Linked DNA regions of Homo sapiens: regions 1 and 2 are each linked to region 3. The links come from fine-mapping of genetic effects on gene expression. A gene starts in region 3. Each other region holds a variant in brackets. All regions are shown on one strand. Distances are from middle to middle.

Region 1 (8,188 bases), 45 kb after region 3:
GGGGCTGGTCCCTACAAAAGCCTAGTGAGAAACCTGCACTTCCACCCCCCACTAGGCATTTTTTCCACCAGAGCAATGTCAAAGGAAGCTTACTATAATGGAATATTAAAAGTAGATCCAGTCACCTAATGTAATAACCCAAATATCCAGGTTTCAATGAAAAAAACCTCTCATACCAAGAAGCAGGAAAGTGTCAGCTCAAATTAGAAAAGACAGTTAATACATGCTGACACTGAAATAACACAGATACTAGAATTATTTGACAAGAATTTTTTTATTGTACTTTAAGTTTTGGGATACATGTGCAGAATGTGCAGGTTTGTTACATAGGTATACACGTGGCATGGTGGTTTGCTGCACCCATCATCCCGTCATCTACATTAGGTATTTCTCCTAATGCTATCTCTGCCCTAGCTCCCCACCCCGCAACAGGCCCCGGTGTGTGATGTTCCCCTCCCTGTGTCCATGTGTTCTCATTGTTCACCTCCCACATAAGAGTGAGAACATGTGGTGGTTGGTTTTCTATTCCTATGTTAGTTTGCTGAGAATGATGGTTTCCAGATTCATCCATGTCCCTGCAAAGGACATGAACTCATCCTTTTTGATGGCTGCATAGTATTCTATGGTATATATGTGCCACTTTTTATTTATCCAGTCTGTCATTGATGGGCATTTGGGTTGGTTCCCAGTCTTTGCTGTTGTGAACAGTGCTGCAGTAAACATACATGTGCATGTGGCTTTATAGTAGAATGATTTATAAGCCTTTGGGTATATACCCAGTAATGGGATTGCTGGGTCAAATGGTGTTTCTGGTTCTACATCCTTGAGGAATCGCCAACTGTCTTCCACAATAGTTGAACTAATTTACACTCCCACTAACAGTGTAAAAGTGTTCCTATTTCTCCACATCCTCTCCAGCATCTGTTGTTTCCTGACTTTAATGTTCGCCATTCTAACTGGCGTGAAATGGTATCTTGTGGTTTTGATTTGCATTTCTCTAATGACCAGTGATGATGAGCTTTTCTTCATGTGTTTGTTGGCTGCATAAATGTCTTCTTTTGAGAAGTGTCTGTTCATATGTTTCACCCACTTTTTGATGGGGTTGTTTTTTCTTGTAAATTTGTTTAAGTTCTTTGTAGATTCTGGATATTAGCCCTTTGTCAGATGGATAGATTGCAAAAATTTTCTCCCGTTCTGTAGGTTGTCTATTCACTCTGATGATAGTTTCTTTTGCTTTGCAGAAGCTCTTTAGTTTAATTAGATCCCATTTGTCAATTTTGGTTTTTGTTGCCATTGCTTTTGGTGTTTTAGTCATGAAATCTTTGCCCATGCCTATGTCCTCAATGGTATTGCCTAGGTTTTCTTCTAGGATTTTTATGTGTTATGTCTTACATTTAAGTCTTTAATCCATCCTGAGTTAATTTTTGTATAAGGTGTAAGGAAGGGGTCCAGTTTCAGTTTTCTGCATATGACTAGCCAGTTTTCCCAACACCATTTGTTAAGTAGGGAATCCTTTCCCCATTGCTTGCTTTTGTCAGGTTTGTCAAAGATCAGATCGTTGTAGATGTGTGGTGTTATTTCTGAGGCCTCTGTTCTGTTCCATTGGTCTATATATCTGTTTTGGTACCAGTACCATGCTGTTTTGGTTACTGTAGCTTTGTAGTATAGTTTGAAGTCAGGTAGTGTGATGCCTCGAGCTTTGTTCTTTCTGCTTAGGATTGTCTTGGCTATACGGGCTCTTTTTTGGGCATGTGCAAAGACACTCATAGGCTCAAAATAAAGGGATGGAGGAATATTTACCAAGCAAATGGAAAGCAAAAAAAAAAAAAAGCAGGGGTTGCGATTCTAGTCTCTGATAAAACAGACTTTAAACCAACAAAGATAAAAAGACAAAGAAGGGCATTATATAATGGTAAAGGGATCAATGCAACAAGAAGAGCTAACTCTCCTAAATATATATGCACCCAATACAGAAGCACCCAGATTCATAAAGCAAGTTCTTAGAGACCTACAAAGAGACTTAGACCCCCGTACAATAATAGTGGGCGACTTAATACCCAACTGTCAATATCAGACAGATCGAGACAGAAAATTAACAAGGATATCCAGGAGTTGAACTCAGCTCTGGACCAAGCGGACCTAATAGACATCGATAGAACTCTCCACCCCAAATCAACAGAATATACACTCTTCTCAGCACCACATCACACTTATTCTAAAATTGACCACATAATTGGAAGTAAAACACTCCTCAGCAAATGCAAAAGAGCAGAAATCATAACAGTCTCTCAGACCACAGTGCAAACAAATTAGAACTCAGGATTAAGAAACTCGCTCAAAACCACACAACTACATGGAAACCGAACAACTTGCTCCTGAATGACTACTGGGTAAATAATGAAATTAAGGCAGAAGTAAATAAGTTCTTTGAAACCAATGAGAACAAAGACACAATGTATCAGAATCTCTGGGACACAGCTAAAGCAGTGTTTAGAAGGAAATTTATAGCACTAAATGCCCACAGGAGAAAGCAGGAAAGATCTAAAATCGACACCCTAACATCACAATTAAAAGAACTAGAGAAGCAAGACGAAACAAGTTCAAAAGCTAGCAGAAGACAAGAAATAACTAAGATCAGAGCAGAACTGAAGGAGATACAGACACGGAAAACCCCTCAAAAAATCAGTGAATCCAGGAGCTGGTTGTTTGAAAAGATTAACAAAATAGACTGCTAGTCAGACTAATAAAGAAGAAAAGATAAAAGAATCAAATAGACAAAATAAAAAATGATAAAGGTGATATCACCACTGATCCCACAGAAATACAAACTACCGTCAGAGAATACTATAAACACCTCTATGCAAATAAACTAGAAAATCTAGAAGAAATGGGGAAATTCCTGGACACATATAGCCTCCCAAGACTAAACCAGGAAAAAGTTGAATCCCTGAATAGACCAATAACAAGTTCTGAAATTGAGGCAGTACTTAATAGCCTGCTAACCAAAAAAAAGCCCAGGACCAGACGGATTCACAGCCGAATTCTACCAGAGGTACAAAGAGGAGCTGGTACCATTCCTTCTGAAACTACTCCAAACAATAGAAAAAGAGAGACTTCTCCGTAACTCATTTTATGAGGCCAGCATTATCCTGATACCAAAACCTGGCAGAGACACAACAAAAAAAGAAAATTTCAGGCCAATATCCCTGATGAACATTGATGCGAAAATCCTCAGTAAAATCCTGGCAAACCAAATCCAGCAGCACATCAAAAAGCTTATCCACCATGATCAAGTCTGCTTCATCCCTGGGATGCAAGGCTGTTTCAACAGATGCAAATCAATAAACATAATCCATCACATAAATAGAACCAATGACAAAAACCACATGATTATCTCAATAGATGCAGAAAAGGCCTTTGACAAAATTCAATAGCCCCTCATGCTAAAAACTCAACAAACTAAGTATTGATGGAACTTATCTCAAAATAGTAAAAGCTGTTTATGACAAACCCACAGCCAATATCATACTGAATGGGCAAAAGCTAGAAGCATTCCCTTTGAAAACCAGCACAAGGCAAGGATGTCCTCTCTCACTACTCCTATTCAATATAGTATTGGAAGTTCTGGCCAGGGCAATCAGGCAAGAGAAATAAATAAGGGTTATTCAAATAGGAAGATAGGAAGTCAAATTGTCTCTGTTTGCAGATGACATGGTTGTATATTTAGAAAACCCCATCGTCTCAGCCCAAAATCTCCTTAAGCTGATAAGCAACATCAGCAAAGTCTTAGCATACAAAATCAATGTGCAAAAATCACAAGCATTCCCATACACCAGTAATAGACAAACAGAGAACCAAATCATGAGTGAACTCCCATTCACAATTGGTACAAAGAGAATAAAATACCTAGGAATACATCTTACAAGGGATGTGAAGGACCTCTTCAAGGAGAACTGCCAGCCACTGCTCAAGGAAGTAAGAGGGGACACAGACAAATGGAAAAACATTCCATGCTTATGGATAGAAGAATCAATATCATGAAAATGACCATACTGCTCTAAGTAATTTATAGATTCAATGCTATCCCCATCAAGCCACCATTGACTTTCTTCACAGAATTAGAAAAAATAACTTTGA[A/ATTTT]TTTTTTTTTTTTTTTTTTGAGACAGAGTCTCACTCTGTCACCCAGGCTGGAGTGCAGTGGCATGTGATCATAGCTCACAGCAATCTCAAACTCCTGGGCTTGAATGATTGTCCCGCCTCAGCCTCCTGAGGTCTCGCTATGGTGCCCAGGCTGGTCTCAAACTGCTGGGCTAAGCGATCCTCCTGCCTTAGCCTCCCAAAGTGTTGGGATTGTACCCATGAGTCATGGCACCTCGCCCTGACACAAATTTTAAAGGAGTCATCAAGACAGTGCTTCAACAAGCAGTTATGAACATGCTTGAAATAAATTAAAAAAAAAGGAAGTTTTCAGCATAGCAAATAAATAGGTAAAGAAAAACCAATTGGAAACTTTATAACTGAAAAATACAGTAACCAAAATAAAATCTTAATGGGTAAAACTGTAGCAAAACTGACACAAAAAAAAGAAGACACAAATCATCAGGAGTAAAATAAGAGATACAGGTTGAGTATCCTTCATCTGAGATGCTTGGGTCCAAAAATGTTTCGGATTTCAGATTTTTTCAGATTTTAGAATATTTGCATTGGTTGAGCATCCCGAATTCAAAAACCCAAAATCTAAAAATGCTCCAGTGAGCATTTGCTTTGAGTGTCTTGTTGGTACTCTTAAAGTTTCAGATTTTGGAGCATTTCGGATTTCAGATTATCAGATTTGGGATGCTCCACCACTCTGGAGCCTGTGGACATGAAAAGGATACTATTTTTAAAAATCTACAGAAATAAATTTGACAACTTTGATGAAATAAACTAAGTTTTCAGAAAGTACAACATACTGCAAGTCACTCAGTATGGCATAGATAATTTGAATAGTGCTACAACTTAATAGAACTTTATAATTTTAAAATGAAAATAGGCCCGAATGATTTCATTGGAGAATTCTAGCAAAGGCTTAAAGAAGAATTTACACTATTTCTGTGTAGTCTCTGCCAGAAAATAAGGGAATACTTCCTAATTCATTTATGAAATCAGTATTATTTTGCTACCAAAAGCAAAGACAATACCAAAAAAAAAAACCTACCAATAAAGACCAACTCCTTTTTAAGTATAGATGTAGATAATCCTTAACAAAATGTTAATCAGTATAATCCAACGGTATATAAATAGAATTAAACACAATGACCAAGTGGACTTTATTTTGGGAATGCAAGATTGATTCAACATTTGAAAATCTGTCAATGTAATCTATCAATGTAACCATATTAACAGGATCATGAAGAAAATATATCAAATGCTATAGAAGCATTTGACAAAATTCAATACCATTTATGATTAAAACTCTTAGAAAACTAGGAATAGAAGCAAACTTCCTCAACTGGATAAAGAATATTTATAGAAAATAAACAGCATCATACCTGATGAAAGACTGAATGCTTTCCCCTTATGATTGGAAACAAGGTGACAAGGATGCACACACTCACAACTCTTATTCAACAAAATATTGGGAGTTCCACCCAGCACAGTAAAACAAGCGGGGGGAAAGCCCTGACAATTGGAAAAGGAGAAATGAAACACCTTCCTTTTCGCCTGTGACGTGATCATCTGTTTAGAAAATCCTAAGTAATCTACAAAAAATCTGTGGAACTAATAATGTAGCAGGATCACAAGATACATTTAAAAAGCAATTGAATTTCTCTACACTAGCAATGAACGTGTGAAAACCATAATTAAAAGTGAAATACTATTTGGAATTGCTAAAAAAAAAGTGAAATACCTAGATATCAGTCTAACAAGACATGCATAGGACTTGTTGGATGAAAACTATTAAATGTTGATGAAAGAAATCAAAGACCCAAATGAATGGAAAGACATACTGTGCTCATAGATTGGAAGACTCAGCATGTTATAAATGACTATTTTCCTAAAATAGATGTAATACAAGTTTAACAAAATTTCAGCAGGTTCTTTTTGTAAATATAGACAAAATTTTTCTACGATTTATATGAAAAGACAGAAGAACCAGAGTAGCTAGTTTTTCATACAGTTTTGAAAAAGATAAGGTGGGAGGAAACACTCTATACTCAATTTCGACTTATAAAGATAGCATAATCAAGACAGTGTAGTATTGGCAGACAGATAGACACATAGGTCAGTGGAACAGACTAGAAACCCAGAAATAGCTCCACACAAGTAAAGCCAATTGATTTTGACAGACGTACAAAAGAGACTCAGTGGAGGAAAGTGGCCTGTTCAAATGGTACTGGCACAGTTGGATAGCCATAGGCAACAAAATAAACCTTGACCTAAACCTTGTGCAAAAATTAACTGCAAGTGGATCATAGATTCTAAATGTAAACCCTACAACCATAAAACTTAAAACATGGAAAAAAAAATCTCTGGGACATTTGTGATTCATTTGTATCATGGAATCCTACTCAGCAATAAGAAGGGAATGTGATGTATATGCAACTAATCAGAACTCTTAAAGACATTATGCTGAGTGAAGAAAAGTCAGCTCGAAAAGTCACATATGTATGACTGCATTTATAGAACATTCTTGAAATGACAAAATTATAGACATGGAGGACAAATAACAGATTAGTTGTTGCCAGGGATTAGGGATGGGGTTATGGGAACAGAGAGGGAAGTGAATGTGACTATAAAGCAGGTAGTCTTTGTGGCGATGGAACAGTTTTGTATCTTGATTGTGATTGGTGGTAGTGACACAAATCTGCACCTGTGATAAAGCGATACATAGCTATACACACACACTGTACTAATGTCAGTTTCCTAGTTTTGATTTTATATTATAGTAAGATGTAACCATGGGAGAAACTGGGTGCAGGGTACAGGGGACCTCTTTTGCTATCTTTGGAACTTCCTTTGAATCTAAAATTATTTCAAAATTAAAAAAAAATTTTTTTAAATTATCCTAGCTAAAGCATCAAGTGAAAGTTCTTAAGAGAAAAAAAGAAAACAAGGGAAGGGAAGGTACAGGATGTCTGGGAAATTGTCTGTGACATTTAAACTGGTTTTTGCCCAGGGGGCATTTGCCAAATCTGGTTTCCTTTCCTCAGCATCAGAGAGCATTGAGGAACCTGAGGAAATAATAAGGTCTTTCTTTCTGGGATGATGAATCTGATACGTTCTTCCTCTTCACCTTAAAGCTGAGACTCAGCTAAACTGGAAACCACCACCAATCCCACCATCCTTCAAGATTGCAGGGAAAGTTGATTTTCTGCATGCTTCTTAGTTTTTAATGTGCATCAGAATCACATGGAGGACTTGTTAAAACAAAGATTGCTGGGCAACATCCCCAGAGTGTAAGATTCAGTAGGTCTGGGGTGAGACTTTTAAAATTTGTACCTCTAATAAGTTTCCAGATGATAGTGATTTTGCTGGTCGGGAACCACACTGCAAAAATTATTTGTATAGCTAAAACCTTGTCGGAGTGAATATGGGGGCAAGATCACTGCTGAGAATTTTAAGCAACCAGCTGACCCTTGTATAATTTGCAGTGCGAATTTAACGCTGTGTAGGTGATCTAAAAAAAAAACAGAAAAAGAATTCCCTAAGATAATTTATCCCCATAATGGCAGTATACATAGACTGGCAGTGAGTATCCCCAGACTCTTGTAGAAGCTAACAGAAATTCTCTTTGGAGAAACTCATCTCCATCCCAGAGTTGAAAGTTTTCCTAGAAATAAAATTCTAAGTAAGTAGAACAACTGTGATAGTCAAAAAGAAAAACATAAAGAAACTAAGCACTGTGAGCAGGACTCAACAGCAGACCTGCTGGAAAATAGGAATAGGCAGCTACAGAATATGAAGTAAGTGTTTCATATGTTTCAACAAAAGTTGAAAATATGTTCCAAGATTCAGAAACTATAAAGACTATTCAAAGAGATTTTTTAAAAATAGCTAGAATTTATACAATTGAAAATTATAGTAGTTGAAACTTTATTAAAAGTCCTCAATAGGGCTGGGCGTGGTGGCTCACGCCTGTAATCCCAGCACTTTGGGAGGCCGAGGTGGGCGGATCACGAGGTCAGGAGATCAAGACCATCCTGGCTAA
Region 2 (8,188 bases), 27 kb before region 3:
TTCATCATGGGACAACTTTCCAACAAGGAGCAGGGGTCTCTTGCAAGTCTGTCCGCGGAGCTCCCTGCCACCAGCACTGTTGCCGCTGTCTTTGTTTACTGCTTGTCACTAAGCACTTGCTGCCCAGCGAGTGAGTCAACAAGGCCCCTTCCCTTTCCTGCCACCACTCTCATTCCCTGGGTCCTGCGCAGTCTCTGGCCTGTTAGCAGGCACTGCCACCCCAGCAGCCTGCGTCCTCAAAGCCAGTGACCCGTGAGAGAGCCAGGAAGAGCTCAAGTGGATTAGGTGCCACTGAAGGCAATGGGATTGCTGCTCAGCAGGGCTTTTACGCTGATGTCTCTTTATCTCCTGGCCCAATCAAAAGAAAGAGCTCTGCAAGGAACTGGGGGCAGCCCCAGAGCAGAGGCTTAGTGTCATCAACTCAAGAGTCCTCCATGCCCTTTCATAGTGTCAGACATTGGACCTGCAACCAACAGGACAGGGAACCATGTGAAAGCAGCAGGAGGAAATGATAACCTGGATCTGTCTGTGAGAAAGCAAGAAAAATGTGGTTAGAGAAAGGGGGAAAGGAATTCTTACTCTTTCTGGTGCTTGGATTCAGAAAGGAACCAGCAGAGATGGGGAACAGCAAGAAGTAGATCATAGCTCTGTAGTAGAAGGGGCAAAAGAACAGATCTCTCAAGCCCTTTAAATCAATAGCAGTGTCAAAACTGAGACGTATTTATTTAAAAAGAAAACATGAGTTTTTGCCTGACTACAGAATAAAATACTAAAATTTGAGGCCGGGCACAGTGGCTCATGCCTGTAATCCCAGCACTTTGGGAGGCCAAGGCGGGCAGATCACGAGGTCAGGAGATCGAGACCATCCTGGCTAACATGGCAAAACCCCGTCTCTACTAAAAATACAAAAAATTAGCTGGGCCTGGAGGCGGGTGCCTGTAGTCCCAGCTACTCCGGAGGCTGAGGCAGAAGAATGGCGTGAACCTGGGAGGCGGAGCTTGCAGTGAGCCAAGATCGGGCCACTGCACTCCAGCCTGGGTGACAGAGCGAGACTCTGTCTCGAAAAAAAAATCTGATGAAACTCAGTGCTGGTGAGGGCATGGAGAATGAGTACTCTCATATGCCAATAGTGAGATTACAGATAAGTGCAACTTCTCTGCAGGGAATTTGGTAATATTCATCAAATTTGTAAATGTACATATCCTTTGTAAACCCAGCTGCTAAGAAGTAACCCCATGGACATTCTTGCAAAAGTTCACCAAAGCATCTGAGAAAGGATGCTCTTTGCAGTGTATTTTGGTAGTAGCAGAAAACTGAAAGCCACTGAAGTGCCCATCAACAGTGATTATTGTAGTTCACACACAGTAGAAAACCAGCTATGCAGCTGTGTAAAGGAAGGAAGTAGATCTGTGTGTGCTGGCATATAACAATTGCCTAGAAAATTCTTTAAGTGACAAAAGGTATGGAATAGCCTAGTATGTTTCCTTTTATTACAAATAGGTACATAAAGACCAGGTATATTTACGTATATTTATGTATACATATTCTTTATACACTGTAGTATATTAGAATATTATGTAGACATATTCTTGTGGTTCTGGAAGGAATCACAAGCAACTTAATAGTGGTTGCTAGGGGAAAGAGTTTTGGCTCATTATTTAGTCAGGAAAATTATTGTTCATTTTGGTATTTTCCCCCTATAACCTTATGTTATATTACTTGAAAAAAACTAAAAAACACAATGTTTTACATTTTTTTCTGCTTAAAGCTATCTATATTGACATTCCCTGCTAGCTAGCAAAACATTTCACAATATCTGCAACAATCTTTTACTGTTTTTTCCAAACTTGTCTTCTCATCAGATTCAGCCTTGAAGACGATAAAATGCAGATTCCCAGGCACCACCCTGAATCTGCTGAACCTGAATCTCTGGGCCCGAGCCAGAGCATCTGTATTTTCAGCAAGTGTCCAGGTAATTTTTATTTAGTAATTTTTTCAGGCTGACCACGCAACCTTTCTCCCAGAAGAAGAAAGTTGACTTCTCCAGTCATGTGGCTCGTTCACAACAGAACAAAAAGCAACACCTAAGTCATCTGCCAACAGGTAAATGCTGGTCTGCTTAAAGTCACCACCACTTTCACTTTTTCTGTTAAAAATACTAGCAGTAACCCCCTTCTATTGTTGCTCTGCTAACATTTCATTAAGTCCATTTTTTTGCATAAAAATTTTATCAATGTGTTTTTGTTTTTCAAGTTATCAAAGCTAATAGTTTCTCTCTGAGTTATCTCTGTGTCATTCCCTATATAATTTTGTTATATTTTATATATTTTTATTTTTTAAGGTTATTTTCCTGTCAAAATTCTTTATTGCGTATGATCATTTAAAAAAAAAACTTTATTTTAGGTTCGAGAGTACATGTGAAGTTTTGTTACAGAGGTAAACTCATGTCATGGGGGTTTGTTGTACAGATTATTTCATCACCCAGATATTAAGCCCAGTACCCAGTAGTTATTGGTTCTCTGTCTACTCACACCCCCCCAACCCTCAGGTAGACCCCAGTGTCTGTTGTTTCCTTCTTTGTGCTCATAGTTCTCACGATCCAGCTCCCACTTATAAGTGAGAACATACTGTATTTCATTTTCTGTACATGAATTAGTTTGCTAAGAATAATAGCCTCCAGCTCCATCCATGTTCCCATGAAAAACATGATCTCATTCTTTTTTATGGCTGCATAGTATTCCATGGAGTATGTATACCACATTTTCTTTATCCAATTTGTCATTGATGGGCATTTACATTGATGCCATGTCTTTGCTATTGTGAATAGTGCTGCCATGAACATAAATGTCCATGTGTCTTTATAATAGAACAATTTATATTCCTTTGGGTATATACCCAGTAATGGGATTGCTGGGTAAAATGGTATTTCTGTCTCTAGGTCTTTGAGAAATTGCCACACTGTCTTCCACAATGGTTGAATGAATTTACATTCCCACCAACAGTGTATAAGTGTTCCCTGTTATTTGCAACCTTGCCAACATCTGTTTCTTTATACATATTTTATTAATAGCCATTCTGACTGGTGTGAGATGGTATCTCATTGTGGATTTGATTTGCATTTCTCTCATTATCAATGGTGTTGAGCTTTTTTCATACACTTGTTGGCCGCATGTATGTCTTCTTTTAAGAAGTTTCTGTTCATGTCCTTTGCCCACTTTTTAATAGGGTCGTTTGTTTTTCTCTCGTAAATTTGTTTAAGTTCCTTATAGATGCTGGATATTAGACTTTTGTCAGATGCATATTTTGCAAATATTTTCTCCCATTCTGTAGGTTGTCTGTTTACTCTGTTGATAATTTCTTTTGCTGTGCAGAAGTTCTTAAGTTTAATTAGATCGCACTGTCAATTTTTCCTTTTGTTGTGATTGCTTTTGGTGTCTTTGTCATGAAATCTTTGCCAGTTCCTATGTCCTGAATGGTATTGATTGCCTAGGTTGTCTGCCAGTGTTTTTATAGTTTCTGGTTTTACATTAAGTCCTTAATCCATCTTGAGTTAATTTTGTATATGGTGTAAGGAAGGGGTCCAGTTTTAATATTCTGCATGTGGCTAGCCAGTTATCTCAGCACCATTTATTGAACAGGGAGTCTTTTCCTCATTGCTTGTTTTTGTCAGCTTTGTTGAAGATTCACATGGTTGTAAGTGTACAGCCTTATTTCTGGGCTTTCCATTCTGTTCCATTGGTCTATGTTCCTGTTTTTGTACCAGCATCATGCTGTTTAGGTTACTGTAGCCCTGTAGTATAGTTTGAAGTTGGGTAACTCAATGTCTCCAGCTCTGTTCTTTTTGCTTCAGATTGCCTTGGCTACTCAGGCTGTTTTTTGGTTCCATATGAATTTTAAGATAGTTTTCTTCTAGTTCTGTGAAGAATATTGTTGGTAGTTTGATGGAAATAGCTTTGAATCTGTAAATAGCTTTGGGCAGTAAGGCCATTTTAATGACTTTGATTCTTCCTATCCATGAGCATGGGATGTTTTTCCATTTGTTAGTGTCTTGTCTGATTTCTCTGAGTAGTGTTTTGTAATTCTCATTGTAGCAATCCTTCACCTCCCTGGTTAGCTGTATTCCTAGGTATTTTATTCTTTTTATGGCAATTGTGAATGGGATTGCCTTTCTGATTTGACTCTCGGCGTGGCTGTTGTTGGCATATAGGAATGCTAGTGATTTTTTTGTACATTGATTTTGTATCCTGAAACTTTGCTGAAGTTGTTTATCAGCTGAAGGAGGTTTTAGGCTGATCGAAATCTTTGAGTTTATATATTTTTTAATTTAATTGCTTCACTTTCAAAAACTGTGTTTACTCCTATTTATAGAGAGTTCTGGAAAGTGAGGTATATAATCAAGTGAAATTCAATAATAAATCCGATTGCCAGTTGTGCCCTTTTGTTTTCCAGAGAAACAGAACCAATTGGATATTTATTTATAAGGAATTGTCTCATGTGATTATGGTGGCTGAGAACCTCACAATCTGCCATCTGCAAGCTGGAGACCCAGGAAAGCAGATGAGATAGTTTCACTCTGAGTCTAAAGGCCTGAGAAACATGGTAAGTCCCAGTCAAAGAGCAGAAGACCAATGGCCCAGTGCAGT[C/T]AGCCAGAGAGAGAGAGAGCAAATTCTCACTTCCTCTGCTTTTGTGTTCTGTTCAAGCCTTCAACAGACTGGGTGATGCCCACCTACATTAGGGAGAGGAGTCTCCTTTACTTAGTCCACCAACTCACAGGCTAATCTCACTGGGAAACAACCTTACAGGTACACTGTATTCATCCATTTTCATGCTGCTGATAAAGACATACCTGAGACTGGGCAATTTACAAAAGAAAGGTTTACTTGGACTTACAGTTCCATGTGGCTGGGGAAGCCTCACAATCATGGTGGAAGGCAAAGAGGAGCAAGTCACATCTTACATAAATAGCAGCAAGCAAAGACAGAGAGCTTGTGCAGGGGAATTCCTTTTTTTAAAACCATCAGATCTCATGAGACTTAGTCACTATCATGAGAACAGCATGAGAAAGACTTGCACCCATGATTCAATTACCTCCTACCGGGTCCCTTCGACAATATGTGGGAATTCAAGATGAGATCTGGGTGGGGACACAGCCAAACCATATCATCCCAACCTGGCCCGTCCAAAATCTCACATCCTCACATTTCAAAGCCAATCATGCCTTCCCAACAGTCCCTCAAAGTCTTAACTCATTTCAGCATTAACCCAAAAGCCCACAGCCCAAAGTCTCATCTGAGACAAGGCAAGTCTCTTCCACTTATGAGCCTGTAAAATCAAAAACAAGTTAGTTACTTCCTAGATACAGTGGGGGTACAGGCATTGTGTAAATACTGCCATTCCAAATGGGAGAAATCGGCCAAAACAAAGGTTCTACAGGCCCCATACAAGTCTGAAATCCAGTGGGGCAGTCAAATCTTAAAGCTCCAAAATGATCTCCTTTGACTCCATGTCTCATATCCAGGTCACGCTGATGCAAGAGGTAGGTTCCCATAGTCTTGGGCAGCTCCACCCCAAGACTTTGCAGGTGTGGCTTTGCAGGGTACAGCCTCCCTCCCAGCTGCCTTCACGGGCTGGTGTTGAGTGTCTGCATCTTTTCCATGCACACAGTGCAAGCTATCATTGGATCTACCATCCTGGAGTCTGGAGGATTGTTGCCCTCTTCTCACAGCTCAACTAGGCAGTGCCCCAGTAGGAACTCTGTATGGGGACTCCGATCCCACATTCCCCTTCCACACTGCCTTAGCAGAGGTTCTCCATGAGAGCCCTGCCCCTGCAGCAAACTTCTGCCTGGGCATCCAGGCATTTCCAAGCATCTTCTGAAATCTAGGCAGAGGTTCCCATACCTCAATTCTTGACTTTTGTGCACTCGCAGGCTCAACACCATGTGGAAGCTGCCAAGACTTGAGGCTTGCACCCTCTGAAGCCATGGCCTGAGCTTGACACTGGCTCCTTTCAGCTACAGCTGGAGTGGCTGGGACACAGGGCACCAAGTCCCTAGGCTGCACACAGCACGGGGACCCTGGGCCTGGCCCACAAAAACACCTTTTCCTCCTAGACCTCCAGCCCTGTGATGAGAGGGACTGTCACAAAGGTCTCTGACATGCCCTGGAGATATTTTCCTCATTGTCTTGGTGATTAACATTCAGCTCCTCGTTACTTGAAAAAAATTTTTTATTTTTATTTTTTACACTTTAAGTTCTAGGATACATGTGCAGAACATGCAGGTTTTTTACATAGGTATACATGTGTCATGGTGGTTTGCTGCACTCATCAACCCATCATCTAGGTTTTAAGCCCTGCATGCATTAGGTATTTCTCCTAATGCTATTACTCCCCTTGCCCCCCACCCTCCAACATGCCCAGGTGTGTGATATTCCCCTCCCTGTGTCTATGTGTTCTCATTGTTCAACTCCCACTTATGAGTGAGAACATGCAGTATTTGGTTTTCTGTTCCTGTGTTAGTTTGCTGAGAATGATGGTTTCCAGCTTCATCCTTGTTACTTTTGCAAATTTCTGTAGCCGGCTTCAATTTCTCCTCAGAAAATGGGTTTTTCTTTTCTATCACATTGTCAGACTGCAAATTATTTGAATGTTTATGCTCTGCTTCCCTTATAAAACTGAATGCCTTTAACAGCACCCAAGTCACCTCTTGAATGCTTTGCTGCTTAGAAATTTCTTCCACCAGATACCCTAAATCATTGCTCTCAAGTTCAAAGTTCCAAAAATCTCCTCCAATTTGGGGCATATGGGGTACCAATTTGGGGGGTACCAGAGCAGGGGCAGAATGCCGCCATTCTCTTTGCTAAAACATAACAAGAGTCACCTTTGCTCCAGTTCTCAAAAAGTTTCTCATCTCCATCTGAGACCACCTCAGTCTGGATCTTATTGTCCATATCAATATCAGGCTTCTGGTCAAAGCCATTCAACAAGTCTCTAAGAAGTTCCAAACTTTCCCACATTTTGCTGTCTTCTTCTGAGCCCTCCAAACTATTCGAACCTCTGCCTGTTACCCAGTTCCAAAGTTGATGCCACATTTTTGGGTATCTTTTCAGCAGCACCCTACTCTACTGGTACCAAATTACTCTATTAGTCCATTTTCATGCTGCTGATAAAGACATACTCGAGACTGGGCAATTTACAACAGAAAGAGGTTTAATTGAACTTACAGTTCCATGTAGCTGGGGAAGCCTCGCAATCATGGCAGAAGGCAAGGAGGAGCAAGTCACATCTTACATGGATGGCAGCAGGCAAAGATAGAGAGCTTGTTCAGAGGAACTCCTCTTTTTAAAACCATCAGCTATCATGAGACTTATTCACTATCAGGAGAACAGCATGAGAAAGACTTGAACCCATGATTCAGTTACCTCCCACCGAGTCCCTCCCACAACATGTGGGAATTCGAGATGAGATTTGGGTGAGAACACAGCCAAAAAATATCATACACCCAGAATAACATTTAACCACGTATCTGGGCAACCCATGGCCCAATGAAATTGACACATAAAATTAGTCATCACAATTCTACCCTGTGTCTACTTGACTGTGATTTAAAGACAAATAGTATATCTGTAAAGTGTGTATCACACTTAATTTCCAAATAAAGACAAGAAAATAACAAGGGCATTATTTCACCTAACATGTTACAATTATCCTGCATACAACAAAAAAAAGTAATAACCCTTTCCCCATAAGAGAGGTAAATCCTTGAATGATGTTTACTTCTCCTCTTGATATATTGTAACTTAAATACTTGATGTAAAATTATCAATACTTAAATACTATGATATAAAGTCAATATATATTATGTTACAGATAAAGAAATAAGAAAGGAAAGAAAACAAATATTATATACACACACAAAAATATATTCATAACAAAATAAGGAGGAAATATTCATGATAATTACAGTCCTCATTTCTGTAACTGTTTACATGGTCGTTGCTGGTGTTTATAACTATTTTCTTCCACTACTCATTCTGTATTCCCTTTGCTTTCAGCATATATCACAGATGACCATGGTTCTTTACTTGGTGGAGTGACCTAAACCTTCATTCCTGAAGTATCTGAGCCATTGGTAGCTCCTGTCTGAACTGGGTTGTTGTAGTTTTCCACTGACCTTAATCACAGGGCA
Region 3 (8,188 bases):
CCAATAATGAAAGTAAGAATAAAGAATGAAAGCACAAAAGCTAATGGAGAGCAAGATGTTCTGTCCAGTTGCTCTGAGGTTTTAAAAAAACAGAAAATACGCCAAATTTCTTAGGGCACTGGCTTTCATTTTTGGCTACAAATTAAAATTACCTGAGGGGATGTGAAAATAGCTACAGAAGCCTGGGCTCCACCCCAGACCACTGGAGAAGGAGCACCAGACATGGAGCCTGGGTGTGGGTAGTGTTTTGTTTTGTTTTGTTTTCCTTGAGACGGAGTCTTGCTCTGTCACCCAGGCTGGAGTGCAGTGGTGTGATCTTGGCTCACTGCAACCTCCACCTCCCAGGTTCAAGTGATTCTCCTGCCTCAGCCTCTTGAGTAGCTGAGATTACAGGCTTGCGCCACCACGACCAGCTAATTTTTGTATTTTTAATAGCGATGGGGCTTCACCATGTTTGTCAGGCTGGTCTTGAACTCCTGACCTTGTGATCCACCTGCCTCGGCCTCCCGAAGTGCTAGGATTACAGCTGTGAGCCACCACGTTCAGCCGGGTGTGGGCAGTTTTAAAGCCCCTCCCCACCCAGGTGATTAAAATGAGCAGGGTGACTTGTGAGTCAGTGTCCTGCTGCTGGGATTCTCAAACTCAAATGGGCATCAGAAATGCCTTGGGGGGGCTCATTAAAACACAGATTGCTGGGCTTCTTCCTCAAGGTTTCTCACTCAGCCGGTCTAAGGTGAGTATGAGAATTTGCATTTTCGACAAGTTCTCAGCTGATGCTGGTCTGGGGAACCACAATTTGAAAACCATCGTCTTAGAGGAATAAATGCTGACCTTTTTTTTTTCCCATGGAAATATGCATGTGTACTCAATCTATAAACTTGACTAGCTTAGTTGGTTCTCTCTTGCATGTACCTGTAAGCAAAAACAGGGTACCACTTGTAACTTCAAATCAGAGTTCTGCCCATTCTGTCTCCACTTCATTTTGTTCAAGTTGCGACTGAGGAGCTCGGGCCATTTTTGGCCCTTTCCTACCCCTGAGGAGCCACAGTTCTTGCAGCTGGAGGATGGATTTACAATACGAACACTCATCTTTCCTCTACTCATGCATCCAGGGTCTGTCTTGCTTTATCGGGAGCCAGCAGGCTCCACCTTGAAAGATTCTCAAAGAACATCCCTGAGTCAGGGACTGACTGACCAAGGTGCTGAACCTCTCCCTCCTGTTGGGGGAAAAGTAGACTTGACTGGAGACATGGGTGGGAGACGAGACTGGGAGGCTTGAAAGCAAGGCTAACAGAGAAGGATGGTGGTGGAGGTGGAGTCAGGGGAGAGGGAGTGTCCTTGGAGATGCCCTTCTGCAGGCTTTAGTTGGTAAGTACCTTCCCACCAACCCAACTCCCCACCCCTGGGGTGAGGTCAGGGAATTAGGAAGTAAGTTGAAGTCTCAGCTTTCAGTTTCTGCACCCTGAACAGCTTGGTGATATTCACCTGACTACCTTAGCCAAAGAAACATCTTCAGTGCAATCCATTGTGTGTGGTCTGGGATGACAAGGGAAGAGATACTCTGGTGGAGTGCAACCTCTTCTTGAACATCCCTCAGGGCTCCAGCAGAGGCTGAGTTTGAAAGGCCTACAGTTCCTCTTCTCTCCTTTCCCCATCCCAGCCTCAGAGGTATCCAAAGACCAGGTGTCCCCAAGACAGCTCCCCTGGGACAAGAGACAAGAAACCTGAATTCACTATATTTTCCTCTTTTTCTGAGTCAGCCCCTTAATAGGTTAACAAGGAACCCTAACAGGTTGACAAGAAAGAATTGCATGAAAAGGAAGAAGAAGGCCCAACACTGCATCTGGGTTACAGAAAAGCATTTTGAATTTGCAGAATATCAGAGATAATTACATTCCATCAGAAATAGCAAAATGCTTTCTGAAATCAATCATACACACACACAAACACACAAACGCACATATGTAAATATGTGGAATGTTCTTTCTAGTTGTAGATAATCAGAAGCTGACCATGGTAGACTGATACTAAGTCAGAAGCTCACTCTGTGGAGTGAGACAGAGGCGGTTATTAACAATAGCATCACAGAACTGGGCGTGAAACTCTGGAGCTCTGCTCCCAGCAACTCCCCTCACTTCACAACAGCTCTAAGGGTTGTATTGTTTTTTGTTACCTCCAGGCCTTTAATTTGTCTGGTGAAGAGTAGGTGGTACCTCTGTCTGTGCACTCAATCACACCCCGTTCTCTCTGGAAACACACGTCTTCCTTCTCTTTTGTGTGTATTCAACCTCTCCCTCTCAACAGTCTTCCCATCAGATGTAAAATATGCTTGTGTCCTACTTCACTGCCCGACTCATCCATATTCACCACCTTTATTTTCTCACCTCCCATTCATTTCCCAGCCCACTCTAATTCACTTCTGGTTCTATTACTCCAGGATTCCAAGCCTCCTCTTATGTTTAATATTATTGATCAGCCCTTTCTTCTTGAACACCTCTCTCCTGGTTATCCTTCTATCTCCCTGGCAGCTCATCACAGACTCATCTTCCCCTTTGTGGCCCTTTAACACTGAAGTTCCCCAAGCCTGGTTGCAGGCCCTCTCCTCAGGCCTAGGCTGACCCATCTATCCCAAGGCTTCAAGGAATCACTCACTGTCAATGATTCGTCTCTTAACTAGCTGAACCTCAGCTCTGTATATCCAACCACCAACTTAACATCAGTTTTGGGCATCTCAAAAGCCTTCAAACAGCCAAACAGCCTGCTCTCATGATATTTTAATGCCAGTCTGGTCCTTTTCCAAGATTCCCATCTTGGTAAACCAGCACTAACATCCATCCTTGGCCACAAGCCAGAAACCTTTGAGTTTTCCTTGATGACTCCCTCTCCTTCATTGCCCCACATAACCCATCACTTGGAGAATGTGCAAGTTCTGCCCGTTGGACCTCCTAAATAATTCACAGATCTTTCCATGTCCATCAACTATTTCCATGACCATCACCCTAGATCAAGCTTCCACCTCTTACCGTCTAGGCTACTCCTACATCCACCTGGGCTCTTTCCAATAAGGAATCTTTTCAAGAAGCTATTCTGACCATGCCACACCCTTTGCTGAATATGTCAGGGGCTTCCCATTGCACTTAGGATAAAAAGATTTTCAACATGGCCAATATGGATGTCCTACGTTTGGTCCCTTTACCAATCTTCCTGACTTCATCTCATAGCTCCTTCTTCCTTGCTCCTCCAGCAGAGCTGGCCTTTCCTGAATTTCTCCATCTTATCCTGCTTAATCTCATCAGAGGACCTTTGCGTGCAAAGCTACCTCTAAAATATTCTCTGTCTAGTCAAACCTATTCCCAGCTCAAGTGACAGTTCCTCAGGGAAATCTTTTCTGGCCTTATTAACTAGTGTATTAATTGGTTTCATAGTATTATGTATCCTTAACAATTTGTATTATAAAACAGTGATAATTTTGCGTTTACTATTATTACTTTCATAGTACAGTGATTAAATCTGTAAACTCTACTGTATTGCCTGGCACTGAATGGGCATGCAATAAATAATTATTGCAGGAACAAAGGATGGCAGGAAGGAAATTAAGAAGGTTGAGAGGGAGGGAGAGAGGAAATGGGAAGAGAATGAATGAATAATCATCTGTATGTTCCCTTTCAGAATCACCAGAAACAGGCCAGCCCCACATGTAATAGGAAAGTAGTTTACCTGAAATCATTCATTTATTCAACAAATATTTATATATTCATTATTAAAGTAACTTACTTGTTTCTGATTGTGAACATAACTATTCCTCTCGGAAAACATGAGAAAATACCCAAAGTATAAACGAGAACCAAGTCACCCTTTATTCCATAGTCCAATGATGAACCATTGTTAACATAATTTGGTGTATTTCTTTCCAGGTTTTTTCTATGTGTATATATAGTATCTAAGTGGGACCATTCTATATATGACTTGTTTCTTGCTTCTTTCTCTTAATGATACATTGTGAACATGTTCCTATGTTGTTAAGAATTCCTTGAACACATGGCATTTAAATTGCTAAAATGTATTCTACCGAATGGTGTAGGTAGTTCAAACGCCTTTCCACCCGTTGTTGGATATTTAAAGGACTTGTCAATTTATCGCTTCTGTAACATTTACACGCTTTGTGGGGCCTCAGAAGTAAACCAGGTAATGCAAGGAATCTGGGAAGAGGTGGATTTGCAAGGAATCTCGGAGGAGGTGGATTTTGGAAAAACTGGAGGCAGCTTTTCCCGGGCAGCTGAAGAGAACACTTATCTCTCTGTAGGTTTCTGGGACCCGGACAGGTGTCCTCAGAATGGAACATATTGTCGGTCAAGGTAACCAGCTCTTCATCACTCAGGTGTGTGTACCGGAAGGGGGTGCCTGTTCGCTGCGCAGGTTAGGCCTAAGCGCACCTGCCCTTCAACCCTGTGCCGACGAGGCCCGAAGGCTTAAGCTCTGACCTGGCTACCGCCGCCAACCAGATGCGGTCCCCTGGGGCCACGCGCCGCCACGTGCCGCCACAGGGCCCGCCCCTCCCGCTCCAGGCCACGCCCCTCACCCACAGCCCTCGGAGGCTCTCTCCGCGGCTCCGCCTCCAAGCGACCTCCGCAAGTCCTCTCGTAACCCCTGGAGTAGCGCCGTCCCCGGGCGGCGGCCCCGCCCCCGCAATCCGGGCCCCGGGGCTGCCCCGCCCCGCCGGCCGCTCGGGAGGCGCGGGGGCGGGGCCCTGCGCGATGACGTGCGCGGGCGTGCGCGGTGACGGCCCGCGTCTCTGTTACTCAGCCGAGCGGCCGAGGCCGGACGACGCGGCTTGGATTGCGGAGCCGCGAGCAGCGCTGGGTAACGGCCGCGGCGACCACCCCGGACGGCCCCTGTCCCCGCTGGCGGGCTTCCCTGTCGCCGTTCGCTGCGCTGCCGGGTGAGTGCGGCGGACGCCGCAGGGCCGGGACGGCAGGCGGCCCCGTCGTGTTTATGTTATTGTGCCGCTGCCGCCGCCGCCGCCTTCTCCTCAGCCGTAACCCCCTCCTGGGAGTGGGGGCGGGAGCGCGCGGTGGGCGGGGGCGGCGCGGGAACAATAGCGGCGCGGAGGCGGGGGCCAGCCGAGGGGGCGTGGGGCTGCGGGACCTGGGTGCGCTCCGCTGCCCGCCAGCCCGCCTGCCGCCGCGAGCCCCGCCCGCCTGTCCTCTCGCGTCCTCTTCGCGTGGGTCCTGCCTCCGCGGCGGGAGAAGAAAATGGAGCGGGGGGGTGGGTGGCAAGTTCTGAAACACTTCGGCAAGGGTCGGACGGAGGTGTCTTTGCGGCCCGCCGCGCCCTGGCTGCCTCCGGGGCGGCGGGGAGCCGGGGAGAGCGCTTCTGCCGGCAGGTCCCCAAGCCTGCCCCGCGCCCATAGGGACCGTATTTTGCTTCTCGATGCTTTCTTTGTGCTAACGTTCTGGGCGAACGCAGGCAGCAGCGCTGAAAAGGGCCAGAGTGGCCTGCAGCTCTGGGCTGCAGGGCAGAGAGCCCAGGCCCGTGGCTCGGGTGGGAGGTGTCCATCCAGCTTGGCCCGAGCTTCGGTGGTCAGCGCGCATTTCTCTTGAGGGTCATCGGTGGTGACCTTTTGACTTTTTCACCCCACCCTCCCATCTCTTTGTCTCGCATTTGTGTTCCCGATTCAGAGATGGTAGAACCAAGTCCATTTTAAAGTACCCTGATGAACACTTTCCGTTTTTATTTCTGAAAGTTCCCTGCTTGGTCTTTACTGCGAATTTAATAACATGTTGACTACATGGCATTGTCCAGTGATTACTATTTTTACCTCTGAAATCCAGCGATCTTTCCAGTAGAATTCTGGTCCGTCAGTCCATTGTGTTTTGAGATAAGCATCCAGCAAGTACCTCCTTGGCAATTAGAACATCTGTTTTTTCATTCATTCATTCATTCAGCAGCTGTTTAGTACCGTACTCAGATGAAGAGGTTTGGTGTGAAGGTAAAGTATCCTTTCATGGAAGAGGATGCTTTGACTGAAGTATAATAGATGGACCTTTAAATGAGACAGTTACATAAGTGATGTCTGTTAAGGAAGGTATGGTTATATTCTGGGTCATTTTTTAAGCAGTATATCTGGAAGTTCAAGTGTAATAGGAAGTAGAATTAGATTTGGTCTAAATATACAACAGCTTTTATTTATTTCTAAATTTTATTTTTTCCAGTCTTGCAGCCTTACAGTCATTTGTAATGGTTACCTCAGATTCCCCTGCTGTGGTTAACGTTAAACCTAGGAGGTCAGATGCTCTAAGTGAACATGTTTAGTGCTGTGCCTGACAAAAGCAAGCAATCAAAATGGGACTTCCTTGAGGGCAGGCCTGTCTTGCATCTGTTTCTCCACCACCTAGCCTGGAATATAGTAAGTGTTCAATAAAAGTCGGATTGATGAAAAGCTCTTTGTAATTGATAATATTTAAAATCAAGCCTTAAAAAAAACCGTAATGTTCTCCATAAAGTTTTGGAAGCTTCATGCAACTGTCGCATCAGATGGCTAAATGGTCAGTTCATGTACATTATCTGTTATGATGACATGGGCTTTTGAATCACGTGTAGGTCATTCACTGTCCTAAAATAAAATCTTGTCTAAATATTTTTTTAATATGATAAATAAAGTAGGTTGTGGAGTGTGTGTTTCTGTGTATGTGCTAGTTTATGTGTGTCCGTGTGTGTGCATGTACGTAATCCACACACAGGCACTCATAAACTGGTATTTCAGTAGGGGTCTAAAATGATTGCATTTATAATTTTGTGAATATTATTTGAAAGTTTTTTGGTGACTCTTATTGTGGAAAATTGAGGACAAAACCACATAAATGTTTTATTAGAAATATTTCTAATATTTTAGAAATGTTTACTTGAAATGTTTGGTTTTAAGTTCTAACTTGTATTAACACAATTGGTACAAAATATGAGCCTAAAACTCAAAATAATTGATTTATCGAAGTTAAAGCTCTTTTCCACTTACTAAATACAGTTTAGCGTTTGTTTTGTATTTGAAAGAATATGAAATGAGTTAACTAATGAGTTTCTTATTATTTGCTGTAAAGTGGAAATGAAGAAATAAGAAAATAATACTTTTTTAAGATGATGGTTGAAAATCTTTGAGATACCAAAGTTTTATTGCTTTACCTAGTTAGGGTATGTCAGATTCTAGTAGGGGTTACTGACAATCCTTTGGCAGTAGCTCACAGGCTGTGTAAAGAACCAGAGTTGTGTTACTTTGTTTTCCAAATTGTTGGTTTTTAAAAATAGCTTTATTGCAATTTAATTGACATAAAATTCACCAGTTAGAGTGTATATATTTCGGTTTTTAGTATTTTCACAGTGTTGTGCCTTGATCACCATCACTAATTCCAGAACATTGTCATCACCCCAAGAAGAAACACCATATCCATTAGCAGTCACTCTGAATTTCACTTCAAATTATCCTTTAAAGTAAGAGATATAGCATCGATTCTGTTAGTAAATATATTCCTTTAGTAAGTATGAAAAGGGCTCCTTTTAAATGTCCTGTCCTGGCAGAATAGGAAACTATATCCTTCATACTCCTTTAGATCCTGGGGGAAATGCCATTTGGAAAGGAAGTCAGTGCAAGAATAAATTGTATACAAATTAATGTGGTTATAATCTTAACTATTTGCTCCATGCCTGATATTATCAAAGTGACCTTGTGAGGATGAGATGTTCAGTGAAACAACTTGAAGGAATTTGTTGTTAAATGACTAGTCCCCAACTATCCTAGTGCTAAGAGGTTGTTGAATAGGAGCCTGCTTCTTGTTGGTCTGCTTTGCCAGCGGGTTGAATTTTGACATATTTCAGTCATCTACATGGTTGAGATGCTTTGTTGCACGAGTGGAAATACAAAATAATGTCTGACATTAGGATTCCAGTGCTCTAGAGGTCTCTGGTCAAGTCAATGGTATGGGTAGTAGCTTTTCTGATTCATGTGGTCCAAGGAAGTCATTATAACCACATAGCTTTATATATGAATCATTTGCCTATGTCAGTGAACTGTGATGCTGATTGTCTTAATCATGAGCTCTTTACCTGAACATTTAGAAGCCTTGCATTCTTACTCTTAATGCAGGTTAAGTTGAACTTTGATTTCAGAAGTGAGTTGACTGAAAGGTAACAGGAGTAT

Alleles and levels. Positions count from the first base shown, and alleles are read on the strand shown. Sizes are in standard deviations (SD) of each study's normalised expression. Not every link is listed here.
With allele C in place of T in region 2, the expression in lymphoblastoid cells of the gene that starts at base 4,795 in region 3 is higher (moderate effect, 0.56 SD a copy in GTEx).

Evidence for each region.
Region 1: its variant is fine-mapped to the expression of MAPK8 in whole blood (INTERVAL, PIP above 0.99).
Region 2: its variant is fine-mapped to the expression of MAPK8 in lymphoblastoid cells (GTEx, PIP 0.98).

Annotation. Positions count from the first base shown.
Region 1 is chr10:48,347,135-48,355,322 of GRCh38, forward strand. The region is part of intron 1 of MAPK8 (mitogen-activated protein kinase 8); the gene reads left to right. Among named protein-coding and RNA genes, the nearest start is that of MAPK8, 45 kb to the left of the region's middle. The variant A/ATTTT (reference allele first, on the strand shown) is at 4,138.
Region 2 is chr10:48,274,597-48,282,784 of GRCh38, forward strand. It overlaps FRMPD2 (FERM and PDZ domain containing 2), which reads right to left and starts at 100. Exons shown (of 29, transcript NM_001018071.4): 1 at 1-100. RefSeq lists an enhancer at 4,908-5,077. The variant C/T (reference allele first, on the strand shown) is at 4,644.
Region 3 is chr10:48,301,883-48,310,070 of GRCh38, forward strand. MAPK8 (mitogen-activated protein kinase 8) reads left to right here and starts at 4,795. Exons shown (of 12, transcript NM_001323329.2): 1 at 4,795-4,939. RefSeq lists a silencer at 4,426-5,375.